Homo sapiens: one gene and its partners. The protein of the gene in region 3 purifies or fractionates together with the protein of the main gene of each other region. This does not show direct contact. Each region holds a gene or a part of one and is shown on either strand. Other genes may lie near its edges. The genes, in order: USP22, NR2F2, NT5E and GJA1.

What was found.
Region 1: the proteins of NT5E (region 3) and USP22 purify together in Homo sapiens (affinity purification with mass spectrometry; 4 studies listed by BioGRID and IntAct, with this or other methods). This does not show direct contact.
Region 2: the proteins of NT5E (region 3) and NR2F2 purify together in Homo sapiens (affinity purification with mass spectrometry; 3 studies listed by BioGRID and IntAct, with this or other methods). This does not show direct contact.
Region 4: the proteins of NT5E (region 3) and GJA1 purify together in Homo sapiens (affinity purification with mass spectrometry; 3 studies listed by BioGRID and IntAct, with this or other methods). This does not show direct contact.

The regions. Positions count from the first base shown.
Region 1 is NC_000017.11:21,011,596-21,019,622, forward strand, and holds part of USP22 (ubiquitin carboxyl-terminal hydrolase 22), read right to left. Parts: intron 7,591-8,027; coding exon 7,489-7,590; intron 6,517-7,488; coding exon 6,347-6,516; intron 4,305-6,346; coding exon 4,157-4,304; intron 1,341-4,156; coding exon 1,235-1,340; intron 1-1,234. UniProt on the Homo sapiens protein: Deubiquitinase that plays a role in several cellular processes including transcriptional regulation, cell cycle progression or innate immunity.
Region 2 is NC_000015.10:96,326,336-96,333,699, reverse strand, and holds the start of NR2F2 (COUP transcription factor 2), read right to left. Parts: upstream 3,001-7,364; 5' UTR 1,595-3,000; coding exon 1,153-1,594; intron 1,136-1,152; exon of another isoform or gene 1,079-1,135; intron 440-1,078; exon of another isoform or gene 393-439; intron 1-392. UniProt on the Homo sapiens protein: Ligand-activated transcription factor. Activated by high concentrations of 9-cis-retinoic acid and all-trans-retinoic acid, but not by dexamethasone, cortisol or progesterone (in vitro). Regulation of the apolipoprotein A-I gene transcription.
Region 3 is NC_000006.12:85,487,564-85,495,590, reverse strand, and holds part of NT5E (5'-nucleotidase isoform 1 preproprotein), read right to left. Parts: intron 6,098-8,027; coding exon 5,992-6,097; intron 5,084-5,991; coding exon 4,934-5,083; intron 3,615-4,933; coding exon 3,414-3,614; intron 1,751-3,413; coding exon 1,587-1,750; 3' UTR 1-1,586. UniProt on the Homo sapiens protein: Catalyzes the hydrolysis of nucleotide monophosphates, releasing inorganic phosphate and the corresponding nucleoside, with AMP being the preferred substrate. Shows a preference for ribonucleotide monophosphates over their equivalent deoxyribose forms.
Region 4 is NC_000006.12:121,431,335-121,438,645, forward strand, and holds the start of GJA1 (gap junction alpha-1 protein), read left to right. Parts: upstream 1-4,311; 5' UTR 4,312-4,498; intron 4,499-7,311. UniProt on the Homo sapiens protein: Gap junction protein that acts as a regulator of bladder capacity. A gap junction consists of a cluster of closely packed pairs of transmembrane channels, the connexons, through which materials of low MW diffuse from one cell to a neighboring cell.

The DNA of each region.
Region 1 (8,027 bases), on a different chromosome or scaffold from region 3:
GGAGGATAAACTCATGGGCCCTGTCAGAGGCTCTGAATCCACAGGTCTATCTCAGCTGCATCTAGAACTTGGGGCCTGTGACCCTAGGCAACACTGGAGACCCCTGCACATTTCACAGAGCGTGCCCAGGCCAGGCCCGGTGGCCTGCACTGGACAGTCAATGCTGCATTTCACAAGGCCAGTTCCTTGCTAGAAATTTATTTAACAATATAAAAAATGAAAACTTGCAGACTGGGAAATTTACTCTCGATATTTATACAGGATTTAAATCTTGAGACAATCTCCTACTAATGGAATTCAGTAGTTAAGGGACAGCGAGGAGGTCCAAATTGCTCAGAGCAAACTCGGTTTCTAATACTCAGAGACAAGGCCCCAAACGGTCTATGCTCCTTATAGAAAATGGCCCCCGTGACACAGGCAGCACTGGCCTTTCCCGATATTTGCTCGTCTTATGCAGTTTAGAAGTGACAGTCCATTTCGGGTTCTGAAATAATTTCGGTGGATCATGTCCAGGGTTTTTAAACTTCAACTGAAGTAAAGAACAGAGCCAGGCACGGTGGCCCATGCCTGTAGTCCCAGCTACTTGGGAGGCTAAGGAGGGAGGATCGCTTGAGCCCATGGGTTCAAGGCCAGCCTGGGCAACATACACAAGACCCCATGCCTGAAAAAAACAAAAACAAAAACAAAAAACCTGTAGCATGCACTGAGGTTGGGTGAGAGGGTCCCCTGACCTAACAAAGCAATGGATTCTCCCTGCACTCAACACTTGAGGCTCTAAGCAGAGACCACATCTGAGAAGAATTAGGGCCACTACATCAGAAAATGGAACCAGAAACCATAAAATAATGAAAACTAACACACTTCGAAGCACGTAGAAAAACAATCCACCATGCATGATCCACGCCTTCTTGAAGAGGGCTCTTTCACTTGGTCCCTGGTCAAGGACTGTAAGATGCAAAATGGTAGGGGAAGCTTCCAAGAACACACTGCTGGCTGTAGACAACAGCCAAGACCTCAACACGAAGGGCTCGCATCCCGAGGGGACACCTGCCCTACGACCTCCCCAAGAGGAAGCACCCCCACCCCACAACCTTCGCTCTCATGGCGTCTATTAATCATTTATCTCATAGCCTCCTTAAAGACCTCTCAGAGCACACACAGCTCTGGAGACTGGGAGGATGTCAGTACGGCCCCAGAGGGTTTGATATTGCCGAGCACGCAGCCTCTCACTTACTGGCAGACTTGGCAGGTGACGTCTGACTGCAACCCGCCTGTGAAGATCTGGTCTATGATGCAGTTGCAGTGGTTGGGGTTGTTGGCCTTCTTCCCATTGTCATCACCTGGAGACAGACCACGGCTCTGGGATTAGTGTCTCCCCAAATATGGGGAGTCTCTAAGGGAAGAGCAGTTCACCCTGCAGAAGCCTGGGGGAGCCAGGGCCAACGCTTTAAAAGGCCATGTGAGGACACTCCTCATTTTAGCAGAGGGTGTCCTTGTTATTTTAATATGACGAGAAATCACAGCACTTGGATTTTCAATGCTCCTTTTTCTCATTCCCTAACAAGAGCCCCACAGCTTCAGTCTTGCCAAGAAAACCCACCTAATGCCCAGTGACTGAGCAGAATAATCGATTCCCATTATCATATAAAGAATGACTGAATCAATATTGTTCCAGTGAGACAGCTGAACATATGGTGGGCCAGGTACACCCGGGGAAGCCCCAGCAACCTCCCTCCCTGAGTAGGTATCATGGTGCCCCAAGTTCAGAAAGTGACACCGCAGGACACAGGCTGTCCTCATCAGCTAGAGCCCCCAGGGGACAGCGTGTCTTCCAGTCAGTTGCATCTGGAAGTGCCACTCCCACCCTCTCTATTCAATACACACTTCATTCATATCCATGTGTGCAGATCTGTGAAAAAGAAACTTAAGTAGCAGAACTTAATTCGTGTGTGGAATACATATTCTACATAACTTCACTAGACAGTGGGGACAGGGCACGAGGACACCTGTATATACATCACAGTTCAAAGACGTTGAATCATGACAGAGGAATAGAGAAGGGCCACTAAGTCTTCTGAGAGCAGAAGGTTTAAGATTAGAGAGAAAAATGCTTCCCAGAGGGATCTCAAATTCATGGGACAAAATTCAGAGGACAAGAATATCCATACAGGAAGGCGCAAAGAATGATGAACAGAATGGCCAGGCGCGGTGGCTCACGCCTGTAATCCCAGCACTTTGGGAGGCCAAGGCGGGCGGATCACGAGGTTAGGAGACCGAGACCATCCTGGCTAACACGGTGAAACCCCGTCTCTACTAAAAATACAAAAAATTAGCTGGGCATGGTGGCGGGCGCCTGTAGTCCCAGCTACTCAGGAGGCTGAGGCAGAAGAATCACTTGAACCTGGGAGGCGGAGGTTGCAGTGAGCTGAGATCGCACCACTGCACTCCAGCCTGGCGACAGAGCGAGACTCTGACTCAAAAACAAAACAAAACAAAACAAAAGATGAACAGAAAGATGCCGTGAAGGCCACAAGGACAAAATGCACGTAACCAAGGCCATGTGGCCAGGCCACCTCGCTGAACAGCTCTGGCAACCAGGTTTCTAAACAGAAGAACCTTACATTTCTTTTCAGACATTTCCAAGGGAATTCTGTCAGAAGCACGTCAGAGGTCACATTTTGTCATGTGAACATTTAACAGCAATGCATTTTTGAACAAGTGATTTTTAGAACATCTTTCTGCTGCTTACAGAAGGCTCTTCGTTATTCTCACTAGGTGCTTGGGGTAACAGCATAGTCACTTCCACAGTGGCTCTTTCCTCTCTTATAAATCATACTAGGACATGAAATTCTACCTAAGCTACTAAGTAACTTTCCTTTGATTTCTAGGTAAGAATTAAAAGGATCACGTAGTTTTTCAGAGGAAAAAAAGTAAGTACCAAAAGAAAACAGAACCCAAAGTCACATTTGACCAAAACCAGCCATTTTAGCTCAACTGTGGGTTGTTTCTGGGCTGTGATCTCAGAACCCATAGGTTGTACGTAAGCGCCTAGGGCCCGGGTGCACAGCCTTGAGACGGATGAGAAGCGATGGGAAGGCCAGCCCACCAAGCTGTTCAACTCGGTGAACCGTCAGAACAGGACTCTGTTCTCTAAAAGACTCCAAGTTAAAATTAACTGATAGGATATCGGCTACAACTAGCTGTGCCAGCCCAGAGACCACAGGAAACTCACAAGCAGCCAGGTGCCCTGTGACCTGAGCGCATGGGTTCTCAGAGTATGGCATCTGAACCAGCGGCATCAACATCAGCTGGGAACTGATTAAGAGTGAAGAAGCCCCTGCCCCCCACAGATCTGCTGAATCAGAAACGCCAGCACGGGCTTTAGGAAGACCTGCAAGTGACCAGCCCACACTCATCTGAGAATCACCTCTCAGTCTCTCTGCCTGTATGGATAGACTTCAGCTGCAGGTCCCTCACACTGGGATCTCCACCATGAGGAGTGGGGAGGAGCCGATCTTGGCTCAAGTCATTCATTCCCAGCCTCCCACCTCCAGCGCTAAGAGCTGCCCCTGCCAACTACCAACACCACACAACTCTGAAAAATCATCAGGGTACCACCCTGGGGCCAGGCTGTGGGACTATGTTGGGGGAGATGGCCCAGGTCCAATGAGACCCCAAGAGAAGCTTTGCTCGTCCTGTGTCCCAGCTCTCTGGCTATTTCAGAGCAACCATCAGTCCTTTTGGAGAGTCCCCAATGGGAAGGAGACAGTTGGGTGATTAAGTTGTGTTTGGGGGATGTCCAGAAGCCTCAGGCCTGATAACCCACAGGGTCCCAGAAATGCCAGGGCAGGCAGGGGCCTCAAAGCACAGGCCCAAGAGGGCTCCAAGAGTTTGCTGTTCACTGTGATCGGTCACTGAGGACCTGTCATACTGCTGGAACTACTTCCTCGCCTCTTAAAAATAAACTAGGAGGAGCCTCTCTGAGGTCATTAGTTATGGTGACTTCAGAAACAAATGACGACAAGGGCTATGATGACAAAACAATGGAATGTGTCACCTGTGCCCCTTTTTGCACGAGTGCATACACTCGCTTTGCTTCCTTCCCCTTCAAGGAAAACATCCTGCCCTGGTGGAGGGTGCAGAGCCCAGGGCCCACCTTTGCAGTGTCGGTGGAGCACGTCCAGGGCCGCGATGAGGAACTCGTGGGCGTCCTGCTGCTCGTAGCCTGCTAGGTGCCTCGCGTGGGTCCACACCAGGTGCAGCAACTTATACGGGATGTGAGGGGACCGGTGTCCAGAGTAAAACTGCCAGAGGGCGGGGAAGGAAACCTTGTCAGGAATAAATGTAGACTCTGAACACAGAGTACACACAATCAAAACCTTTATCAGATGCCTACCATTGGCTGTGGCTCATTTGACACAAATGTTTGGATTTTACTTTTCTACTTTTTGCAAAGTCTATTTTTATCTGGGCTCACTGGACTTTTCGAGTCCTCATATGAATTTTTTCCTTTCTACCATCTAGTTTTCCACATATAAGCCTAAAAAATGAATTATGACTTGCTACTATGAGATCACATGCAAATAAAAGTGACTCGATTTGCCCAATACTAGTTTCCTCAAAGCACTAGCCAAACCACTCAGGCCCATGGACACCAGCACCTCCGCAAAGGGAAGCACATCACTGTGATTATGCAGAATTCACCAGCATCAGCCACAGGATTCTCTGCCTCTGAGGCTAATGGCAATTAGCTGAGGGCTTGCCAGCCAGTCCTCTCCAACAGCTCAACTCCAGCCGCAGACCCAGCAGCACACCTTCCATCCCACGGCTTCCTCCCCAGGTCAGAACCCACAGAGGGGTCTTGCCTGTGCAAATACAGAATTCAGGGCAGTTTTATTTCTCATCAAAAAACCCAAAACCACAGACCACCCAAATGTGTCTGAACTGGGAAACAGACAACTAAACCATAACCCATCTACATAATGGAACCCAACTCAGACATCGAAAGCACACATCATGGATGCACGCAAGACACGGGTGAATCCACCCAGTATTACATTAAGTAGGGACAGCCAGATTCAGAAAGGCTACTTCCTGCATGCATCCATCCGTATGATGCGCTGGTAAAGGACACTCAAGGGACCGAAGACAGATCGGCAGCTACCAGGGTCTGGGGACTGGGGGTTGACTTCGGAGGGGCACGAGGGAGTTCGGAGAGGTAACAGTTCTTCATCTTGAGTAGCAGCAGTTACACAACTATGCATTCGTCGAAACTCATCTATCTATAGGCTAGAAGGTGGGTGTGACTGTAATTTACACCTTAACAAGCCGGAGTCTAAAAACAATCTAACACAAGTGAGCTTATCACTAAAGTCAGTGATACAACCACCCACCAACTTCCCAGCTGCACCCTCCTTTCTCCTATTTGGGCCGTGTCCCCAGCAGTTATGGCACATTGCAGGTACTTTGAGGAAATCGGTTAGGCTCGACCAGAGGCTGGCAATCTGTTTTTGAAAGGCTTGGACAGTAAATAATTTCAGCTTTGCAGGTTGGATAGCCTCTGTCCAACTGCTCAACTCTGTGGCTGTCCCACAAAAGCGACCAGTGACCAGACAGACATGAGTGAGCTGGCGTGGCTGCATCTCTCGCAGAGGTTACGAATGGGAACAGGCCAGGGCTGTTGGCTGGCTCCTGTGCAAGGCACCTGAAGAACAGGCACCAGCCTGCTTATTAGTTGAGGTAACTGAGCTGCTTCAGCTCTGAGAAGCATGTCTAGGTCACGGAGCCGGTGAGGGCTGAGGCGGCAGCCGTGAACGCCTTGCTCTGAACGCTGCCATGCTCTGATGCCGGGGACAGAAGTGGACAGGAACGCCACACGTGCAGCCCACAGGAACAGCCAACGTGCAGCGCGTAGCTCATGAGGACAGAGGCTCTGATGGGGCATGCTTAGAGAGACCTGGCGGTGGAGGAGACTCGCATACCAGGAGGACACAGGAGGGTGACACATGCGTGCCTTTCTGAGCCAGGAAGGTAGACCATGGAGGAAGAGGAAGGGGGAGAATCACCCGTCTTTAGAGACAAATGTCACCCACCAGGGAAGTCTCTGCCACAAGCCTCTCAAAGGGCTTCTCCTTGTTCTGAGTCAGCAGTGCGTCCCCAAAAATCACGCCAGGTCTTCCCTTTTTGGAAAACTGTGTTTTCCATAATAGACATGTATATTAAACATTAACTTACTACAAAAGGTTCTAAATGTATCTTCCTTTATCATGGTCCACCTTAAATTTTTTTTTTGAAGGTGAAAACAAAGTAACAGAAATGTTCCCCTGCAGAAGTCAATGGCGCTCACCTCCTGAAACAGTGAGGACATCTCACAGACCAGACAGGAGCTGGGGCTCTGCATCTCACAGCGGTGCCTGTCAGACAGGAAGAAGTCCCGCAGAAGTGGCGTGTGGGTCAGGGCCTGCACGATGCAGTTCATGAAGCATGTGTTCCCAAGGTTGATCAGCCCACGCAGACCTGGACACAAATCACCAGAGAGCAGGAGTTACCTGTGTGCTGAACCACAGGTGTCGCTGGATCCCAGCGGCTTCCTCTACCTCTACATACTCATTTTCTTTTATTCATTCATTCAAGCCAGAACACGATGAGATATCGCATTCTGCTAGTTTTTATGCCACTTTTACATGAACGGTATTGAAGAATGTCCACCACCATGGACCCCTCCCACTTCAGCCATTGTATGCTTTGACAGAATTACACAAATATAGTTTCTACGACAACAGGCCAGGTCAGAGTGAAGCCTAATGAACAAACAAAACAGGTTTTTAAAAATGTTCTAGGGCCAGGGCAGGGGCTCATACTTGTAACCCAGCACTCTGGGAAGCCAAGGCATGAGGATCACTGGAGCCCAGGAGTTCGAGACCAGCCTGGGCAACATGGTGAGATGTCTCTACGCAAAACACAAAAATTATCCAAACATGGTGGTGTGCACCTGCAATCCCAGCTACTTGGGAGGCTGAGGTGGAAGGATCGCTTGGGCCCAGGAGACAGAGGGTGCAGTGAACTGTGCTCCAGCCTGGGCAACAGAGCAAGACTCTGTCTCAAAAAAGAAAAAGAAAAAGTTTTAAAGGGTATTCCCTCAATTTGTAGAAAATTCAGCGAACACTTACACTCACACACATCATTTCTCTCCCTGAAGATTACTGTGCCCAGCCTCACCCTGGCCAAAATCAACTTGAGTCCCTTTACCCACACAGACGCTGAAGGCTGTGAGGGCAGGGCTGTTGCTACGCATCACTCTGCGCCCCAAGCCCACTGCAGGTCCCTGCAGAGAACAGGTGCTCAAGAGCTGGTTGCTGAGCACATTGATGAGTGACAGTTATGCAGGGCTTCAACAGAATCATGTGGACTTAAGAAACCCACAATTCTGTATTTACTTTTAAACCCTGGAAAGAAGCCTAGCTGAGAGTGACGACACGCTCCACCCACCTATGGTGCAGTTCGAGGTGATCTTTCTCCTTTTCGGGTTGTGCTTCAGCAGTTCAAGCTCCCGTTTGGTTGGTTCCCAAGTTGAAAACTTCTCTCCAACGCCTAAGCAGATGAAGGACAGTTCCAAGCGCTATTAGCTAGATTTTCACATCAAGTGTGTTTACACATAAAAGCTGTGGCGCTATGCTGTCTGTCAGGGTGCATTTCAGTGAGCAACATCCACAGCACCAGGGCTTTCTCAAACTCTACTGTGCTGAGAGGGGCTACACACAACACTTAAAGGAGCTTCTCACAGAGGGTATGAGGATGTGAGCTACGTTTCCTGCAAGAAAAGCAGCACCTCCAGTCAAAACTACCCCAACGCCAATGCCAAAACAGTTGTTTTTCAAATGTCTTCCATCCTTCAGCACAGAGATGGCAGCATCAGCACCAATGGGAACTTACATGAAGGATTCTCCCGCAAACAAGTGAAATTGAAGGAGAGAGCTTGCACTTTTCAGCAAACTGAAATAGCATAAACTCAGCGTCGAGTTACCAAA
Region 2 (7,364 bases), on a different chromosome or scaffold from region 3:
GGAGGGGCGAGTCTGGGGGGAGGGTGAGGCGCTTTTGCAAAAGGCACGAGGGTCCACCCCAGACGGCCTGTGGCCACTCCGGAACGACTCTCCCACAAACCCCGAAGCCCCAGCCCCAGCCCGGCGGGGAACCCCCCCAGTGAGAGACAAGCAGAGAGCGGAGGTCTGGCGTCTGTCTAATCAGTGTGCTCGGAGAAAGAGACGGAGGGAGAGGGCGGAGAGAGAGAGGCCGGCTAAAGAGAGAGGAAGCCGGGAGAGGCAGGGAGCAGGCGGCCGGCACTAGCGGAGCCTGGGCAGGGCCTGTAAGGGCCGGGGAAAGCCGGCGAGGCTCGGGCCCAGGCTGTTATCTGACTCCGGACCGGGAGAGTCGCTCTCGCAGAAACACAAAGAAACCCCGGCGTTGGCTCGCCCCAACCCGGAGCCCGCGCCCCGCGCCGAGCGCGCCATTGGCAAAGCACGGCTCGCGGCGCTCGGCGAATTTTATATCACAAAGACCCAACTCGCGCAGAGCGAAAGCAGCCGCCCAGGGCCCCTCGCCCACCCTTTCCTACTTCCTATCGCGCTCTCTTCGTTTCAAAAAGTGAAAGGAAAAAAGAAAGCAGAGGTATTTTTTTTTTTAGCAGGATGTTAATCCACGGAGGGTCACATGAGCGCTGCCCGGGCGGCAGCGTTAATACGGCGAAGTGCATAAAATTGCCATTTGTAATTTGAACCTCCTGTACAAAAGTACAATCTCAGGTTTTTTTTTTTTTTTTTTTGAGAGGGTGGGGGCTGGGGAAAGGGGTGAGGGGGAGGGACATGTTGAACATGCAGGAAAAACAAGGGCAGAGAGAGAGAAGTAAACTAGGCTTTAAAACAACAACAACAAACACCCCATCCCTTGCAGAAAGGCAGACTCCAGTGAACTCACAATCAATGCAAAGGAAATGGAAACAGCCCAAAGAGAGAGTAAAGAAGGAAATCAGTCGGCCAAAGCATGCGGATTTGGGGTCTGGGTTCCAATGCAGAACTCGCTTCTAGTATAAAACCCTTTTCCGCTGCAATACGAAGAGAAGAGCTTGGGGCTTCTTGTCCTTACCCAGAGCAGGCTAGCCAAACGTACCCAGGACCCCGGGACCCAGGACGAGGGAAGGAGAAATGAGAGGCCGATACCTTCCCGTCTCATGCCCACTTTGAGGCACTTTTTGAGGCGGCAGTACTGGCACTGGTTGCGATGGTGCTGGTCGATGGGACAGTTCCGGTTGGCGCGGCACGTGTAGCTCAGGTTCCTCCGCACGCTGCGCTTGAAGAAGCTCTTGCAGCCCTCGCACGTGAACTGGCCGTAGTGCTTGCCGCTCGACTTGTCTCCGCACACCACGCACTCGATGTGTTGCTGCTGCTGCTGCTTGTCGCTACCCGGGCCGCCAGGGCCGCCCTGGCCACCGGCCGCCGTCTGGGCTGGCGTGCTGGCTGGGCCCCCTTGGCCGGGCGTCTGTGGCGTGTGCGGGGCGCCGGGCGGCGGGCCGGGCACGGGCGGCGCCTGCGAGGCCTGGCTGCCCTGTGAGCCGGGCACCTCGTCCTGGGGGTCGCGCCACGTGCTGACTACCATTGCCATATCTATGGGGGCTGCGTCCGGACTTCCTGCTCCCCTGGCTGCGGGCGGCGGCGGGGCGGCGGCGGCTCCCCGGGTCTCGGGCTCCGGCGCGCCGCCTTTTGTGTGTGCGAGGGTGCAAGAGGGCGCGGGAGGGCGCCCCGGGTGGCTCGGGGGCTGGTTGGTTGAGGTTGGTTAGTTTTTCCTTTTTTGTTTTTGCTTTTGCAAAGTTTTGTCGATGGCTTGTCTGGCCCGGTGTGTTTGTTTTGTTTGTTTCTCTCGGCTCAGCTTTGTTGGTTTCGGGGGGCTTTCCGCCGGGAGGGGAGGGGAAGGGGACAGGAGAGCGAGTGGGAGCAGAACGTGGAGAAAGAGGGAGGGGAGGGAGAGCTGAAGTCGATTGTCTGGCTTCAAGACAGAAGTAGGAGGCAAAAAAAAAAATCTCTCCAAAGATCTCGCTCGCTCTCACTCTCTCCCTCCCTCTCTCGTTCACTCTCGCTCTTAGAGCTGGTGTGCAGCCGAGGAGTTGGCGGAGGAGGAGGAGGAGGAGGAGGAGGAAGAGGAGGTGGTGGTGAAGGAGGAGGTAGAGGAGGAGGAGAGGCGACTGTCCGGGGGCCAAGTCCAGGGCAGCCCACAGTCAGCCATTCAGGAAAGCCATCGAAATCAGGAGGACTAGGAGATCGGAGGCGCCGGGTGCGGGCGCGCCCAGGGAGCCAGGCAGGCCGGGGCGGAGGCCGGCGGCCCGCGGAGTGGCCGGAGCGCTGCCCGGGTCCGGGGGAATCAGCATGAAAGTGGTCCGCGTCGGGCGCTGCGCGGCGTCGTCCTGGCGCTGGGCCGCCGCCGCCGCCGCCTGCCCCGGGCGTCCGGCGCGCGCCTCGCTCTCTCCGGCCGCCGCCGCCCGCAGTCGCTGGGTGGAGGCCGCTCGCCGTTCCCTGCGGGCCGCCCGGGCCGCCGCTGCCGCCGGAGCCGCCGCCGAAGCCGCCGGGTCGGGCCCGGAGCCGCTGCGTCTAGCGCCGCCGCCGCCGCTGAAGTCGCTGCTGCCGCTGCTGCCGCCGCCGGAGCCGCTGCTGCTGCTGCTGCCGCCGCCGCCTCACACACATAGGGAAAGAGTCAACTCGCCGGCGGCGGGGGAGAAATGATAAAAGAGAGAGAGGAGGGCAGATCACCACCTAGAAGCACATCCTTCGTGCGCAGAGGGGGGAGAAAAAGACGGAGAGAAAGAATGAAAGAGGGGAAAAAAGGCAGTACGGCACCCGGAGAAAGGAGGCAACTCGGGGAGAGGAGGAGGAGAAGAAGAAAACACACACGCGCGCACGCACACACACACCGCGGAGAGAAAAGAACAGAGAATCAAAGTGATCAAATATGCTAAAAAGGGGGGCGCGGGAGGGAATGCGATTTATAGGCGCCGGGGCTGGCAGAAGTGGCTTCTCCGCGATCAGCTCACTGAGCTCTCTATATAGTGAACTTTGACACGACTGCTGCAACTTAGCGCACGTTGCCATGGCGACGGCGCGCCTTATAAGGCAGCAGCCGGGGTTGGCCTGGCCAGGCGCGCGCGCGCCGCCCCCTCGCCGTCATTGGCCGGACTGCGGCGGCCCCGCCATGGCGGCCGCGGGCGCAGCCCGGTCCTAGCGCGAGCGGCGTCGCCGGCGCGGCGCGGGGCACGCGGGGGACCGGGGGTTGGGGGGGCGGGGACGGGGTGGCCGCGCCGCCGCCGCCGCCGCCGCCGAGAGGGGGATGGGCCCGTGCTGGCCCTGCGAGCGCTGCCTCTGCTCTCCCCACATCCCGCACCCGAGGTTTCCGCCCCGGCGGGGAGACTAGCGCAGCGCGCACACACAACGTCTCTTAAAGGCTCCGCGAGAGGCTTTGGATGGAATCGGGGAGTTTGCCTCTCGCAACTTGGCGATGTCACGAATTCCGCCGCTCGCGCACCACCCGGGACTCCTGGCGCATCTTAGTACCCACAATGCCAAAGAAAAGTTCCCTGGTTTCTTTGCAGAGGGATAGGGAGTGAGGGTGGGAAGGTGCCACGAACTGAGCTTGTAGGCATTTTCCAAACGAAAGAGTTGGCCAGATCCGGGTGATGGCAAACCCTTCTCTTAATTAACTCTGATCACTTGTTCGGTTTGGTGACATATATATATGACATATATTCTTTTCAGAGGATAAAGGCCGTTCTGTTTCTGTTTATTCCTTGTAGGGTTAACATTTCACAGGTATGTGGCCTGACATTTTAATTGCCCAAATAAAGCATCTCGGATGCTGAGAAGCAGAAATAGACTTCATCTGATTGTCATGATGCAATTAGAATCAATTTTCCTCAACTTTACCCTCTCTCGCTGGTTTTAGCTAACTCTCCAGCCAACATCCTGCCACACACCCAGTCATGGTGAGAGGGGAAAGACCTCTGCCCACTGATGGACAGGAGGAGGCAGCCGCCCAGCCTCCCCTGTGCACACCCTCTGTACACACATGTAAGCGCACATGTATCAGATGCACATTTGTCAATGTACACAGACAAAGACTTCACCGACTATGCTTCTAGGTCATAGAACAGTTGAGTACGGACTTCATTGTTCCTCAAGTTCCTTTTAAGCATTCATATAGTCATTAAAACGCACCCAGAGATTCTGCCCCAAATGGGAAATAATACTAGTACAGGTCACAAGAACCAAACCCAAGCCATATTCTACCTCAAGAAGTCACTGCAAAAAGAACAACTTCATAGCCTATTGCCATTCTGCTCCATGTGCTAAAATAATTGAGACAGTTGTGTCTTTGAATTCCAGGGTGTCTGGTTTTAAACATCAAACATGTAGAATTGCTCTCAGAACACACTATATTCCAACGCAGTAAACTTGTTGTTTATGACCAGTTAGTGAATTATCATTATTCCACATTTATACAAGAAAATTGTGTCTCCTTTGTACACACTTTGCACCAAGAAAAAACCTCATGCCGGTAAACCAACCAGGTTTGTGAACAATTAAAATATTTTACACAAAAGACGCTGAGCTCCAGGAAAGAAATGAACACATATGAAGAGTAAATTGATGACCACAGAAAACATCCTTGGTAGCTGAAAAAAAAATTGACAGGGTAAAGATATTTTAAAAATAAACCATACATATAATTGACATGCATAGATCACATTTTACATTCAATTCTCTTTACACACATAGGCAGAATATGAGGTAAGGACTAAAGATCTGGGCAGATAGGGGCTGGTTTTTAGGAAAGGAAAAATCTTCTTTAAGCTTCATTCCCGAAACCTCAGCCCTCACTCTTTCTCCGATGAAATCACGTATTTCACTAAAGCTGCAGGTTCTCGGTTTATTTGAAAGTTGTTAAAAAAAAAAAAAAAAGCCCAGCAAACCTATAGTGGACACTGAACTATCATAAACCTGGTGTGTAATAAGATTGCCACAGAATGAAGCCAAGCTGAGAATTTCAGGTTAATTAGAGACACAATATAACTTTCTCCTAAAGAGGATAAGAAGGATGGAAAAGAAATCATTACACAGGAGAAGGTTTTTGGTAGTTGTTGTTGTTTTCCCTTCCAACCTCTATGATTCAGGAATTGCTAATGTTACAAATGTCAGCAGATTCGGGACAAGCTCAGCTGAGATGTGATGAGACTGGGGTTGAGATAGGAAATCTAATGGGCATTCCCATCTCAATAGAGGATGAAAATAATTGATTATAGGGAAATCTTCATCTCACCTCCTGAATGAGACTTCCATAGCAGATTACCTTTTACAAACATGGGAAGGAACAATATCGAGGAGGAAGAGCTTCCCCAGTCCACTTAGAGATTTTTGGAATTTGAAGTATGCGTGATGGCCTTAGATTAAAATGGAATAATTTCCCAACCATATCTTAACAAATTGGAGCCTGCTAGGCAAATGATCACAGGGCTGCCATAAAGTCAGGGGTGTTTCACTCTGTATTTTAGGACTCATTCAGTTATGAAATGCTGTTACAAGGGAGAAAAAAAATCACCGTATGAATTATACTTAATTTTAATGCATAGAAGAAGAGACAAGACTACAGACTGAGAAGAAAAAAGGGCAAAAATATTTTTAAATGTCTTCTCCAGAGATGCTCACTTGCTGTGCGTCTAAGGTTAAAAAGCTCTGAGAAGATAAAATCAATATATTATTGTTGTTTTTTAAAAATCCAACTCAGTCTTTTTTTGCAGATGTAAATTTATTATAATGAGAAGAATGGCAAGCTTTAATTTGCCTAGAGAAAGTTGGGACAACATTTGCCCTAATCTAAAAAAGAAAAGAAAGAAACTCAACACCCAGGAATATAATTTTCTTGCAGAAAGTGGCCTGATGGGCTGTATTTCTTTACAGATTGAATCACAATATGAATACAGACCCCAGCAAATGCCGAGTTTAACTCTGAACTCAGTAGAAACCAGTTCCGTCCTCCAGGATTCATTGAATTCCTCCTTTCCCTCAATCTAGTCCGTGTGTGTTTTTCTCTTCCACCACACTGGAGCTCCATGAATAGGGAAAGGGGCTTCCATTGTGTCCCTCTGAACTTCCAAGTCAATGCAATTTTTAACCACTGGCTTGTGGTACTTTGAAAATCACCAGGGGCTGTCAGAGTTAGGTCCTCTGAAAAATTTACAGTGCTAAATCAGAGCATATGCTGGGAGGGAAAAAATTGCTTAAGATTAGAGCAAGTACAGTATCTGTCTGCCCCCTAGTGTAAGAGTCCTCGCTGCCTAAAATTCAACTTTAAAAGAAAAGGAGCTCTTAAAGGGAAACGACTTTGGACTCACGTAGGCATAGGAGAACGAAACTTCTGTACATTTTAATCTGAATAATTCTTCAGGATTTAAAATTAATTGGCTCTGGCTTGGTTGGACCGTACTCGGATCTCGCCACCTCTGCGTTTCCCGAGTCACTGGCGAAGAGGTGATTTTTTTTTTTTTTTGAACTGGGTTTATGTGCGTCCCCCTCACCCCCTCCTCTCTTTTTCTTTCTCTCTGTCTCTGTCGTCTCTCTCGCTGGCTTTTTAAAAATGAGGAACCGCTCCTTGAATGTTCTGGACAGAGCACAGAATTGCTTCTTAAGTCAGCCCGGCGCGGTTGCAATAGACAGCAAAAAGGTAAACGTTTGCCTGAAATCCGCACGCCAGCTCCACCGCCCCGCCCGATGGTGAGTACCCTTCTCGTCGCGATTCTCCTCCTAGCTTAACCGAGCGCTCGCCTACCCGAACCGTGGCCGAGGGCGCCGGGCTAGGCTTTTCTCCCTCCCTGCCTGCCTGGCTGTCAGTTGCACAAGGTTGCAAAATGAAGCGCAGAGGCAAAGCGAACAGTAAATTCTGATACTTAGTGCGAGCCTAGCAGCTCCTTTGCTAGAAAACCGAGTCATCTGCTGCTTGCAAAACCACGCTTTATAGGACTGGTTTTTAGTTTGCTCTGTGGAAGGAAATGAGTTTGAGGAGACAGGACGAGGAGATAGGAGGCTCCGCAGTCTTAACGCTTCGGTTTAATCATATTTTGGCAGCTTTGCAATTGTATTTTCCCCCCTCCCCCTCCACCATCTCTCCTACCACACACATGTAATAAAATATGGCAATGCATTGAATTGACTCTGATCCCCCCTTCCCCGAACCCCTTAAACCACAGTCCTCGGCATTTCATACACGTTAGCAAACCGATATTTTGAAAAGCCCCAAGTCATCCCCAACCCCACACAGCACAAGCAGAAAAGTGAGAAAGGAAAGAGAGAGAGAAAAAATACTGTAAGTAAACATACCAAAACCATATTTGCCT
Region 3 (8,027 bases):
CCTTGTACAATCTTATTGACATTTTTTATAGCTAATCCATATATGCATAGAACCGAGGCTATTATTTTGCTGCAACAACTTTTATAAAAAGGTTATGAAGTTTAAAAGTATATTTTGTATCAAGAGTACTTAATATTTGTAAACACTAAGAAACAAACATACTTCCTATCAAAACCTCTAGCTGCCATTTGCACACTGTTTTTAAGGTGAAGCCTCCCATTTCTTGAATTACTTATGCAGAGCTGAGCAGGCTCATGTGGTTCCACTCCCACGTTAAGTATTTGTTCTTTGGGCATAGGTCATTTCATCAGCATGGGTATTTTCTGACCACCCACTCAGAGGGTCCCACTTTCCAGCAGAAGTTCTCATATCTGGGCTTAAGAATGATTTACAGTGACTGTTCAGATTTGGAGGCAGAGCGACTTAAAAAATGTATACCTCTTCCTAAAGTCATTTATTTTCTTCGAGAACTCTGGACATTCCATAACTGGGTGTGTAGTATGAGTAGAATGAATTCAGTGCTAGCCTCTTGCTGGAGAGGGACAAGTGCAGGTTTAGAATTACAGCTTATGTTAGAAGGTTCTCTTCTCATGATACCTTCATGTTAGAAGAAAGAGGACAGAGGCAGAGCTGATGGAATCTCATAAAATAACAGCTAATGCCGTGTGTCAGGCACTATGCTTAACAAGTATCTGTTTAACATGTGTAAATGCTCTTTAGCTCTTGCTTTTCTATAATATAAAACAGTCCTGGAGTCCTGTTCTTCCCCTTCCTTTCTCTCGTGTCCTTTGACTGTCTTTTGCAGCCTCTGGCCTTTCTCATTATCTACTACAGCTTGCTACCTGACTCATCAAAGGCACATGGGTGTTGCAAGAGAGGATGGTATCCTGTGTTTATACCATTAAACTTGCTATTATAACAGGAGCTATAAAGTGAAAAAATAGAGACAAGAAATAAAGCAGAGATTTGTCATCCATGAGCTTGGGGCTATTGATAATTATGAAGAGAGGAGATATTAAGTATTCTGAACAGTAACTTGATATAGTTGAGAATGCTGGACTTGAGTTCAAAAGACCTAGGTCTAGGTCTTGGATCTGTCAGCATTAGCTGTATGGTCAAGTCAACCCTTTTTGAGCTTCAGTTTTTTCATCTGACAGGTGGGAAAAACATCTCTCTTTCCTACCAAAAATAAGTTGTGGATATCAAATGAGACAGTGTGCTTAAAACTTCCTTGTGAATGATAAAATTTTATGTAAACATAAGCTGTTTGATGGATTAGAAATGGATATGAAGAAGAAAAATATGGTTTAAAATTGTTAGTAAAATTTCATTAAAATTTGGACACGTAAACTTAACATAGTTGGCTTTCTCCTTATAGGGCCCTATGTTAATTTTTTTTCTAACTCACTAGGTTGCTGACCCTGAGTAATCATGTCTGTCTCTTCATTTTATAATGCTCTAACCTTCAGCTTCTAGGAGCCTGTAAAGATGGTTTTTGCTGTCACAAAGCCAGGTCCTAAAAGGCAGATTTGAATCTCACTTGAAAAAATGCAGTTTCACACATTAAAGGCAAGGAGAATTTTTGGCTATTGGTATAAAACAAAGATCACTGCCCAAAGTGAAAGAAATATTAAAGAAAAGCTTCCATGGCAGTGACTTCCTGTGGAAAACTTGATCCGACCTTCAACTGCTGGATAAATTACTTTCATTTTGGAGATATATGTAGAAACCACGTTGATATCTTGGTCACCTAGAAAAACATATACATTATTTTAACTACAGAAAAGGTAATTATCAATCAACAGTAAGGTAGTCCTTTGTAATTATAAAAGGGAAGCAATTTCATAAGCAGGGGTAAAGTGTCACAGAAGACAAGAACGCTAGTGATCATAAGTACAAAGAATTTGATTGCTTTTTCATGCTCCAGATGTAAAATGTGTCTGTTGTTCAATATTGGGTAATTGGGGGAAGTAGAGTTGCCTCAGCTCTGTGATGACTCTAGAAAGAGGTCATTGACATCATAGCCTTTGAACCACTCCAGAACAAGGGCATTAGGGAACTGGGTCAAGAGCAATTAGTTGAGAGATAAAACTGGCTTCCTTTTGTTTGCCTGCCCAATAATTATTTTCATGTAATTGATGATGGGACTTGGGGGATTTCCTTTACCAAAGAGAGGAGAGGATAAATGCTAATTGCCTATAGCTACAACAAACCCATGTTTGTTGGGAACCCATGTTCTGTTGGGAACCCAACAGAATTTTATTTTAAAAATATCACTCCAGTACTTAAGAACCCTTCTCTCTTCAGTGGTTTTCACCTCTGGGTGTACACTAGAATCACTGAAAAAGAGTTTAGCCCCAATCCAGTTAACTTAGAATCTCTTAAGAGCTGCGGCCGAGCCATTGGTATTTAATTTAAAATGCTCCTGAAGTGATTCTAATGTATAACCAGTGTTGAGAACGCTTAGGTCCAGGGCTTCCTTAGCCTTCTGCATGAGCTCCTCTCTCTAACATCCTTCAGTCTAGGCTTGAGTGGTGGACAGCTGATGGCTATCAGCCTCTTTGTCTCATGGGGCTTTTACGCCTGCCCTTCCATCTTCTGTCACGGAAGGGACAGAAGAAGCCAGCACCTTTCCTCCCAGGAAGGGCTGCCTCCTTTGGTCTGGTCCTGCCCTCCACGCTCCTTGGAATAAGTAGCTAAAATGACAGGTCCAGCATGATAAGACTGAGGAAGATCCTGGTGGAACTACCCAGAGATGCCAAGAAGCTGCTTGTGTGTCTTGTAAGCATGCTGGTCTCTGCCCTAGGAAGAGGAAGGGGAAGTGTGTCCTATGTCAGTGGTCTGTATGCACATAATGTGACTCTCAACAGAATTTCTAAAAGTGAGGCTGGCATATAATGTCCCTCAATGCTGCCAGAAGTACCAACTGACATCAAGTATGGTTATTCCTATGATTTGTACCACCAACCCACTGTGCTGAAAGGGCGGCGCTCACCCCATCCACTTCTACCTGACTGATTCACACAGAAACTTCTTCAAGAAAGAAAATTTAAATGATTTAATGTGATGGTTTTCCATATCCTAAAATTCCAGAGGTGTGATATTTCTGTTAATGCAAAACTCACTTATATTTCACAATTTAAATAGCTGCTTAGATGTAGTTAAAAGAATTTTAAAACATTTTTGATTTACAAATGTTTTGTCTCTGGGGTTGGATGAAGGCATGTGTGTGCTCGGGGATTGACAGGGTACATATTCCTCTCTGCTGTGCTGTGCTGCTGCTTTCCAACAAGCAAAGCAGGAGGGAGTCAGCAATACAGGGAGTCACTTTGCCCTCCTGGCACCACTAGTAGCTCCCCTTCTTGGCCCAATTTTGTTGTTCTTTAGAGAAAGGAAGAGACAGTCATGCTTACCAGAGTCATGTCTTAATAATTCATCTTTTATCATCTGGAACCCATCTCCACCATTGGCCAGGAAGTTTGGGAGGATCACCTTATATACCTCGTCCATTTTGAGAGGGTCATAACTGGGCACTCGACACTTGGTGCAAAGAACATCTAATTTGACTACTCTGTCTCCAGGTTTTCGGGAAAGATCATACACCACATGGATTCCTAGAAAAGAAATGAATCTGTTTTCACCAGATCCAAAGGGAGATTTCTGTTTCCTAAGGAATTTTGGCCAAACTCTACAATTGGGGCATGGGGCTGTGGTTTTTCCTTTGGTTTAAACCTGAGTGAAATTTTGTCAAGAGAATTGTGACATTGCAGCCACCCTTTATCCTTGAGTCCTTACAGGACATATGAGAACCACTGGAAGGAAAACCAGCTCTGGACCAGAATAGGCAAAGGGTGACTCTACATGGACAAAACCACATCTTTTTCTGTTTTTCCCTTAAAATGCTGAATTGGTCTACTAAATTGATTCAATGGCCTTAGAAAGTGAGAAACAGATCAGAGGCAGAGAGCATTTTACAATTTTGAAGACCATTAAATGGTAATCATTTGGGATTTGGTGACTTCCACAAGGCATAGAGCTATGCAGTGCTTTGCTAGAGCATCAGAAAACTGCTTTTCCCTCAACTCCCTTCTGGGAAAATGGAGGATGTTTGGGTTGCCCCATAGGCATTAGGACAGGGCCCCACTGCCTTCTGTAGCCCTTCAGTCTCAACAGCAATGTGTTCTGCAGAGGAAAACTCAGGAAAGCAATTCTATCTGTCAAGCGGGACCACAACCTAAGGTTAAAAAAATGAGGCCAGATTATGATTTCCAGGTAAAATAAGATTGCTTTTAAAGGATTAATTCACTGGACTGTGGAATTATTAACAAAAGTGTTTCAGAAGCCCTTGGCAATTTAGGAAGCATTTATTTCCATTCAACTTTCACTGCAGTCCATGAGATAAACAGGAAAGGTTTTCTCCCTGTGCCCAGAGGGGTTGAGAACTTGCCCCAGGTCACAGTGGGACTAGAACCAGGTGTTCAGGTATGTCTGTGCAGTAGGCTGCTCCTTCCAGGAATCATCCTGGTTAATACAGATTGGACAGCATTCCTTTAAATCTTGGCATGGTTCCAGGCAACGATGAGTAGAACAGAGGAGAGGATTTAAAAAAAAAATAATTGAATGCTTAAATAAGATTTTATTAGAAACTAGACCTCAAAGCAGGTGACCTGCTTAGAGGGCCCATCTGATGTCCAAATCAGACTTGGCAAATACTGCTTATTGCCAGGGCTTTGGGGCTTTGGGGCTTTGACCCCAACCTAATCTTAGTGGCTCTGAGAGTCCACAGCCATTAAAGGGTAAGGTATTGGTGTTGGGTCGGGAAAAATCCAAACCAGTTTGACCACAGGAATTTTGGTGAAGGGGAAGCTGAGCCAACCAGCAGGAAATGCCATGTCACTTTGGATGGGCCAGCCCTACAGGATGGGTGACTTACCGCCCACCTGCAGGAACTCTCCAGTGGACTGGCCGTAGCGGTGCACGCTATGCTCAAAGGCCTTCTTCAGGGTGGAACCTTTTAACTGGACTAGGTCAAATGTGCCTCCAAAGGGCAATACAGCAGCCAGGTTCTCCCAGGTAATTGTGCCTGAGGGTAGTCACAGATGAGGCAAGAAGGAAAATAGCTTGAGAAAATGCTTACACCATGACCAGTTTCCCTCAGCGCTGGGGGAAGAAATGAGGGGGACATGGGAAGCTTATAGAGCATCATTAGCTATGTCTAAGTGGTTCCTGACACTGAGGAAGGGAATGAGTTTAGGAGGCCTCTGGCCCTGCACTCCACCACTGGGCAAGATGGCGGGAGCTCACAAATGGCTGTGCCTCAGAAGTTCACCATGCTCAGTCTTAGATCTGCTAGCTTGGGGCTGGATCTCCAGTAGTTTGTTTTGCATTGTTCCGTTCCTCCAGACAAACAATGTGCCCCTGCAACCTGTCCCTGTTGTCTGACAATGGGATGCGTTTGGGGCCTTATACTGATACTGATTGGTTTTCACAGTAAATCAGGGAGGGCTACAAGAGTGTCTTGAGTATTTGTGTAGTTGATTTGTTTTGCCATATGATATAATCTTGGATATCTGTAAATATACTAAGGTAACATTTTAATCCAGTGGTATGTCTTTTTCAGGACAGAAGATTGGTGATTTTGTCTCTTTTCAGATGCCAAGGTGGTGACTGTTGTTATTTTGCATAAATCAGAAACAACTAGTATAGCTTTGTAAGTCAGAAATTCAGACCAAGTTTGAGTTCCACTAACCTTACCTGCAGCTTCTGTGTGTGAATACATATAAGAACACACAAGCTTGTGTGTGTCCTTCAGGCTAGGTTTTAGACTTTAATAATGGCTAACCCTAATTTAAAGGACTGACATTCTGGTACATGGCTGGCAGCAGAGATGAACTGAGGCTGCACATGGGTGTGTTCAGGGCAAGAACCATAACAGAAAAGGAGATCAGAGAGAGAACATGACACACTGAGGAGCTGGGCCTGGGAGCATACCATTGTTGCGTTCATCAATGGGCGACCGGATACCACCTCCATTTAAAATGCACATGGATACGTGGTTCCAGAACATTTCATCCGTGTGTCTCAGGTTGTTGTTAATCTGCAACAGTAGCACAGATTTACACTAGTTACTCTGGCTCTTCTTCCTTAGGATCAGCTCCAGGAATCTGGTTAGCTCTAGTGAGGAAATAAAGCTGCTTTTCACCTGCTGCTGTGTTCCCAGGGATCTCTCAACTATAATTAGAACTAATTTTATGCTCCCAGAAGTAAAAATATACTGTTACCAGTCCATGTCAAACTCTTATTTCCCCCTCCTAAAACTCCCATACTGTCAGGCCAGGTGGCCTTAGCAAAATGGTCTCTCGGTTGTAGCCCTGGTGTCGGGACTGGGCCTCCCATGCAAGGTGGCCTGCAGAGTCACTCCTGCACAGGCTTCTCCAGGGCAGGCCATGCCCTCTGCCTGATTCTGAGGGCTTGGCCCTAGAGCCTGCTCAACACCAGACCTCATGCCAAAGAGAACCTGGCCTCCACGTCTATGTCTGCAGCTGATTCCCAAGTTGGCAATTTTGGAAAGACAGAGACAGCCTTTTGAAGCTGGGGAGAATCACATCCATTCTTACTTTTATTTTACAAAATATATGTTTAGTTATAAGAAATAAAATGAATATATTCTCATTTAGGAGACAAAAAGCCGAAAAAAAAAAAAAAAAAAGGCCAGGCATAGTGGCTCACACCTGTAAATCCCAGCACTTTGGGAGGCTGTGGCAGGTGGATCACCTAAGGTCAGGAGTTCGAGACCAGTCTAGCCAACATGGTGAAACCCCGTCTCTACTAAAGATACAAAAATTAGCTGGGTGTGGTAGTGGACACCTCTAATCCCAGCTACTTGGGAGGCTGAAGCAGGAGAATCGCTTGAACCCAAGGGACGGAGGTTGCAGTGAGCTGAGATCATGCCACTGCACTCCAGCCTGGGCGACAGAGCAAGACTCAGTCTCAATAAATAAATAAATTAATTAATTAAATAAATAAATAAATAAAAAGCAAAAGCTCTCCTTTGTCCTAGCCTCTTTAACAGAGTGGATAAGCACTGCCAACAGCCTGGGTTGTTTCCCTCCAGACTTCTCTTAACATTTATATACCAGCTTCTCCTTAACTACTTCTCTGGCATTGACTGCATGATGCTGAGGAGACATCATGAGTCTGGTCTTGGCATGAGCATGATTGTTGTCATTTACACGGCAAACATTTATCGAGTGCAGTTGTATCCTGGGCACTGGGCAATGCATGCCAAGCACTGACAGAAATGACTTCCCTGGGTGCAGGCTGTGAGCCCATGGAAGTAGTAGTCCGACATAGGAGACCTTGGCTCAGTAAGGCCCCCAGAGAGCTACCATGGCCATTCCGCCTGGTGACAAGTAGACGGGCTTGTTCTTCATACCTGGTCTTGCTCAGCCATAGGACTTGTTATTACCATTAAAACTGTGTGTTGTCTTTCTGTGCCTGTGAAAGAGGTTCCTGTCACACAAGGCCAGGGTTCTCTGGAGTCAAGTGAACAGATGAGTGAAAAACAGTCTGGCCAAACAGATATGCTTTTATCTATTATGTTGATATCTCCAGGGTAGCAGAGTTTGTGCATTTGCATCATCTTACAAAAGGAAAGCAACATCCAAAATTCAGACATCTAAGAACACCTTAAAATAAAGGTTTTAGTTCTTGTAAAGCAGTATGTTGGTGGTTACCTGATCTCCTTCCAGCACCTTAAGAAGGTACTGAGTATGAAGCTACATCAGGCTTTTGTTTAGGCACTAATGTTTTATTTATTTTTCATATTTATTTAATTTTAGAGACAGAGTCTCGCTCTTTTGCCCAGGCTGGAGTGCACTGGTGCAATTATAGCTCACTGCAGCCTCCTGGGCTCAAGCCATCTTCCCACCTAAGCCTCCCGAGTAGCTGGGACTATAGGCACATGCCACCACCCTGGCTAAAAATGTTTTGAAATCCCTCATTCTGTAGCTATCGATCTATCCCTT
Region 4 (7,311 bases), about 36 Mb from region 3:
TAGCTACTTTGAGAAAATACCTTCAAACCCTAGTTTCATGCGGCCTATACTGTCTGAAAACATTTTCTTTATGTTGCACTCATTCTCTTTTTAACGGAGTAGCTGTCCTTTCAAAGTTAACTACTCCTCCAGTGCACAAGTAATATTTTCCCACAAATAAGCCCACTTGTAGCTATTTTAAATACCTTTCCCTTTCCCAGATGTTACCTTGCCTCTTTTTTCATTCTTTTTGTCTGCATTAAATGAGGAAATCCACCAAGGCTGTGTGTGTGCTTTTTGGTACACTGCCTATATCCCATCTCTTAGTAATTTCATCTGTACCTGTGGCTTCTAATTACAAATCTTTTTTTTTTCTTTCTTTTTTTTTTCAGATCCTCTCACCTCAGCCTCCTGAGTAGTTGGGACTACAGAGGCCTGCCACTATGTCTAAATAACCTTTTTATTTGTTGTAGACACAGGGTCTCCCTATGTTGCCCAGGGTGGTCTTGAACTCTTGGGTTCAAGTTGTCATCCCACCTCAGCCTCCCAAGTGCTGGGATTACAGAGTTGAACCACTGTGTCTTCCCAATCACAAATCTTATAACAATTTTTTTTTTTTTTGAGACTGAGTCTCACTCTGTTGCCCAGTTGTAGTGCATTGGTGTTATCTTGGCTCACTGCAACCTCCACCTTTCAGGTTCAGGCAACTCTCGTGCCTCAGCCTCCCGGGAGGCTGGGACTACAGGTGTGTGCCACCACGCCCAGCTAATTTTTGTATTTTTAGTAGAGACGGGATTTCTCCATGTTGGTCAGGCTGGTCTCGAACACCTGACCTCAGGTGATCTGCCCGCCTTGGCCACCCAAAGTGCTGGGATTACAAGCATGAGCCACTGTGCCCCGCTGTAACAATTTTAAAGTGAACGCCACAGCTCCTGTTTTAAATTGTCAGTCATCGGTCTTTACCTAGATATTTCAGTTCTTCATACCAAAATATTTCAAACAAATCTTTGTATCTCTTTCAGCAGGTCAGTCCCTCCCCGAGCTTCCTTTTTTTGTGTTAGTAACATTTTCCCAATCAAAACTCCAAAAATCGGTTTCCACAGCCTCCTCTTCCTTGTCTTCCCATTCATCCATCATCAAGTTCTGGTAATTCTACCTTCCTTTCCTTTCTTTCTGCTAGTATTGCCTTTCAAGTTCCTATAGCTTACTGCTCTCCCATTACAATACTCTTCTTACAAGTCTAATCCGGAGCCACCAATTATTTAACGTTTATGCTACTCAATGAGGTGAAAGTAATCCATCAGAGTTTATGTGGGATAGGCATTTAAAGGCCTTAAAAATCACTCCATTCATTTCTTAAAATTTCAGAAATTCCTATTTTGAAACAAAGGTAAAAATCCAAAAAAGGAGGTGGTTCTCATATTAAGAAATATTTCTCACAATTCTGAAAAAAACTTACCCTCCATTGTGCCAACAATGTGCATTTTGCAAAATATATATAGCTACATGGAGAAAACAGAATCAAAGGCCTGGCAGGTCATTTGGCCTAAAGAAGCCCTGCAGAAGACAGAAACTGTAAATAACTGTTTCTAGTTCTCCAAAGAGCAGTGTTAATCAGGCTGCATCCATTTCTTCTACATAGACAAGGTCTGGCAATCAGAGAAGACACAGTTCTAGGAAGTCAGTGTTTATATTAAAGAAATGGCATTGACATTTCTGAGAATATGAGAAAAACACATTTAAAAAAAAAAAACTATTCCACAATTTTTGCAAAACATTCCAATGGAGACAAGCTTCTAAGGTCAGATAAGTGAGATACTTTTGAACAATTTTGCTATTGATAAAAATATAACTCACCAACACTGCTAGAGTATGAGTTATAATAGAAGTTGCTACCTGTCATTTAGAGACCCTGTTAGTTGTCCATGAGAGAAAACTGTGGGGCCTTTTGCAAAACCTAGTTTGTCTTGCACATGATTACTCATAGCATTGCATTTCAGTGCCATTATCCCAAAAGAAGAGAAGCTTCTTCAGAATGTCTTATCAATGATATTTTCATGAAATCATGTTGAGATCTTGTATCAATGATCATGGAAAAATGATTTTAGAAAGAAAAGACATAGTACGTTCATGTATTAAGAGAAGTAACTAATTACTGGCTCATGCTATGAGTAATTCCTTTGGCTCAGAAAATAGTTCAAGTGATATCCATGAATAATTTAACTTGTTATAAGGAAGTTCTTTAGCTCTATTTCCAATTGGTCACATAGGTAATAGATTAAAAAGAAAAGAATACTTTACAAGAATATTTAAACATCAACATTCATCTATAGACCTAACAAAACATAACAGAAATAAACACAATTTTTTTTGCTTTAAAAATCCTATTATAAAACAGTCAATGACAACTTTTCTTTCATGTAACTTATTCTGAATTAGCATCATGGTAATGTTTTTTATAATTGTAGTTGATAAATAATTTTACAAAAATAAATTGTTATGTAAATTAAATGAAGCATACTTTTTTGAAAAGAAGACATGTATTTTCTTACGATAAAAAGAATAAATCATTTTCATGAATATGTTCTAAGTCCAATGAAATAATTTTTAGTTAAGACAAAACAATAGATTTATTTAAAGAACAATATAAATACAAGACCAAAACAACATTTATAGGTTGCTGAACCTGAAGACTCGAAAGTCAGGTTACAATTTCTACTTCCAGAAGATTGTTTTTCCCCTTTCTTAATTTAAAGAAAAATGTACTCTTGGAAATAGGATAGCCAACAAGTAAAAGCAAAATTGTTCCTTAAAATTGCAACATTTGGGCCCAGCGCGGCGGCTCACGCCTGTGATCCCAGCACTTTGGGAGGCGGAGGCCTGTAATCCCAGCCACCCAGGAGGCTGAGGCAGGAGAATCACTTGAAGCCGGAAGGCGGAGGTTGCGGTGAGCAGAGATGGCGCCACTGCACTCTAGTTTGGGCAACAAGAGCGAAACTCCGTCTCAGAAAAGAAAAAAAAAAACCTGCAACATTTCAAAAGATGTTATATTAGTCATTTCAGTGAAAGTTTAATTAGGGAACGGTGTCTACCAGAATATATTTGGCATCCTTCTTTTTTCTGGTATTTGCCTGAGTGAGAAAAGTGTTAGGAATAGGAAGGCCAGATGAGTTTGCTTTCCCTCCAGAGAATACTGGCCAAGAAATTTCCTGTCCAACCTCAGGAGCATCACTGAAGCCTGTTTATGAGGAATTGTCCTACCACAACACTGTGTTATGGCATTTGGGAAGCCCTCAGAGGAGCTGCCTGCTCTAAGATTGAGGCCACATGACTCAGGCCATTATAAACCCTAATGCAGAGCCCTGAAGAGGGAGAGCATTTGGAAGGGGATAGGGAAGCACATAAAGATGATATGCTCAGCTTTACTGTCGTTGGGCAGAAAACTCTCTAGTGGGCTTGAGAGGGGGAACTGATTTTAAGGAGGGCTGAATAGTTTGGGAACCTACTTAATGCAACCATAGTCTGTATTTTTAAAATCCTCACATTTCACTACAGATTTGGGTTTTAGTGTCTTGGCATAAATAGGGCCTTAATATAAATTCTTAGTTTTCTGGAGACATGGTAGAGGTCAGATATCAAGATTTCATAGGCAAACAAAACATGCTATATATGTAAAAAATGTATATACACACACAGCCTTTTGCTAAACTGAAAGAAAGTAAAAATTCAAAGCAGTCAAGGGGTTGAAAGATGGATTGGGTATGGACTTTTCTTCATCTATGTCAATTTTTGAAATCTCTCTCCCATCTCCACCATTCCCTTTGTTAATTGTCCTTGCTTACATTTAAAGGAAGGGAATTAGATCATCAAACAGGTCACTCACACCTACCTCTAACTTCACACACCTTGGTCAATGTGAAACAAGCTTGAACTGGTTATATGCTTCCCCACCATTTTTATTTATTGTAAGCTACTTTAAAAATTTTAGACAATGTTGTAATAAAAATATACACCTTTTTCCCCCATTATCCCTGGTCTTCTGGTGAAGCAAGCAGTGTAATCAATGATTCTTATGTGTGAGGAGCAACTCCAAGTAGAGGCGTTCATGTCCCTAATGCTTTTTTATTTTTCCTCATCAGCAAATTTAAACTACAACTTTATCCTGATCCCACTGCTGCTCTTTGCCTCTTCTCCCCCCAGCCCTTCCACATTTACCAGCCTCCTCCCTACCTCCTCCCAGCCTTTCCCTTTGCCCTCCCCTTTCTTCTAGCCCCTCCTCCCAGTTGAGTCAGTGGCTTGAAACTTTTAAAAGCTCTGTGCTCCAAGTTACAAAAAAGCTTTTACGAGGTATCAGCACTTTTCTTTCATTAGGGGGAAGGCGTGAGGAAAGTACCAAACAGCAGCGGAGTTTTAAACTTTAAATAGACAGGTCTGAGTGCCTGAACTTGCCTTTTCATTTTACTTCATCCTCCAAGGAGTTCAATCACTTGGCGTGACTTCACTACTTTTAAGCAAAAGAGTAAGTTTTTAAAAAATGAGAACACGTTACCTATTAGTTTCTTTTTCTACAAGTAAAACTTTTCTAAAGTTTTAAAATGTGTTAAATGTAATTTTGAATTATGATACTGTAAATGGATTGATGGATTTGAAAGTGTTTCTATAGTTTTAAAGTTAAAATTTATTGTACCAAATATATATTTTGACTGTTAAAAAAGTTTCTATTAACATTGCAACAGGTGAAAAGGTTCAAACCTTTCCGATTAGAATAAAGGATTAGTTTACTGGATGTTTGGTTTTTCATTTTAGAGTATCATTTTATTTTGTTTTTTTTTTGTAATCAGTAATAGTCTAGGTGCTATCATTTGTTGGGTGGGGGGGGGGCGGTTAGGCGCCTGGGTTGGGGGATTTGACTGACTACATCGGAAAAATCAAAGTGCAAATTTGCTTAGCGTGCTTCCTATAGTATTCTACACTTCATAGAATAAAGTGCTTTTTTCATATGGAAATCTTGATTGATGTTCTATAGCTTTGCAAAGCCAACTTCTTTTGTGACGAAGTGCTTTGTTAAAACATCGTGGTTACTTGACTTCCACGTGGTTCCTTCCTAGAATTTTCCCCATTAAACAAAAAGGTATAAAATTCAAGAGTATTAATATTATGCTTTAAAAATCAACAGTAAATTGTTACTTTGTGTTAGCAACCGCTATGGAAAGATTTGAGACCCTCAGGAGAGACAGCTTTTACTCGACCACGTTGGCAGTTTAGGAGATGAAATCTCTTGAATGGGTGGTGGCTAGTTACAGAGCATTAGAGATCAGACGTTTAAAAAAGAGTGTATGCCAGGGTACTTTTCCAAAACCGTCTCCTAAAACGGGAGCTCCTAGAAAGAGCAGGAAAAAAACTTTCTTAAACAGCGCTTTGGGAGCTCCCCCCGCCAACACCCGCCGCCCCGCACCTTCCCTCTGCTCGAACCTGTAACAGAATTCAGAACTCTGGGGCAGTTCTTTGGAGTTGGAGCTCCTAGGGCAAAGATAACGCTAATGCGTTGTTTAAAAGGGTTCAATTTTTAAAATACTTTTATTGGTAACACCCATTCTGTTCATCAGAAATGCAGCCATGCATTTTTGTGCCCGGTAAAGATTTTCTGTTCTGTGTAAATCTACAAACTAAAATAATTAGTTTAGATTCTTGACGTGACCCTGCAGTGGAAGTATTTGCACCAGTGAATGCTGAAAAGCAAATAAAAATGAAAGCTTTGCGGAGGCCGTGGGCCGGACGGGCGCGGGGCGCCTCCTGCCATCTTAGCGTCTGCCGGGATCCTTCCCGCGCCTTCGCTGCCCGAACCAGCTCGGTCTTGGGACGTTTCCCCCAAATCCTCACAAGTCAAATCGAACTCAGGTCCGAGTTCGTCACTGCAAAGGAACCCGGGGTGCGGGGTGGGAGGGATAGGAGGAGAGATGGGCTGGGTGCCAAATGGTAGAACAAATGGTTGATTTAATTAAAGTTGTCAATCTAATTTCCCATCCCTCTCACACCAGCCCTTTTTTTTTTTCTTTTTCTTTTTTCCTCTTAAACTTGCTGAATCCCACTATCTCCGCGTTGGTAAGAAAACCTGAATACCTTGGGAATTGTGCTTAAATTGCACTTGCAACTCCCCTGGAAGTTCCTGAAACTTCCCGAGAATGAGGCGGGGCGGCTCAAGGGGAAAGGGCAGGGAGGAGAGACCCTCGGGAAGCTGATGACGCGTCCGGGGCAAGTCAGCCTGTTTCCGAGACGCGCGCCTCACGGTCGTAGCAGCGCTGCGCCCACCCTGCCCCTTTAGTGACCCAGCCAGCCTTTGCTGGGGGTTTCTGATAACGCTCATCGATAAGCTCTCCTTGCTCCCAAAAGGCGTGCTTCTCTTTCTCTCCAGGTACAAAGTAGGGGTGGGAAGGGGAGAGCTACACAATGTTGTAAAAAGAAGCGTGGCTTTATTTGGAAGACGGTTGAATTTCTTTTGCTTCCTCGACCCAGTTAGTAACGACAAGAAAGATACTGAATATCGCCCTCCGAAAATCGGGCGCATTTGAACTCGGTGAAAAGTGTCCCTGTGAGGAAGCCTAATGTTTACTTTTGTGCAAGGATAACTGGAAATTAAAGCGTCTAGTAATGCAGAGATTTCATTAAGCGAGCGCTCCCCTCCCCCCCGCGCCAGGAATGAAATAAGCCAGTTAGACAGAAAACACTTTTGGGAGAAGACTAATTACTTCTGGGTAGGCCGAATTGACTGGAAATTATACCAAGCAAAGGCAGTACATTCCATTCCGTCCTGGCGATGTTGATTCTATATTATTAGAACATTGTTCCCCCAGTGTGGGGGTGCTTTGTACTTCCCAAAGTCAGGGTAGACTGGTTACCTGGGAAAATGCAGTGTTAGTGCTTTGCTCCTACTTTCTTCACTGTTTAAACATGTTCCACATTTTTCTAATGCCTTCTGAGGGTTCTCAACCCAGCCACTGAGTTCCTCACCCTTGGCGACTGTGATACCAACAATGCTGTCACCCTCCTTGGGAAACATGGTTGCAAAGATGCTCCGCAGGAGGCAGATAAAAGGCTGTGCTTTCAGATACTGAAGGTTGCTTTGTTACTTAGATGTTTCCAATTCCTGCATAGAGAAGGAGGGAAAACACGGGGTGCATTCTTTCTTTTCTTTTCTCTACATCCAGGGGTGTAGCTTGGTTTGAGCCTTTATATATGATACCCGCAGGGAAGGGAATGATAGGACAGTCACCAGTGATTAATACCTTCCACTCCGCCTTTCCTGTTGTTCTGACTTATCTTCAGGATTCTCAG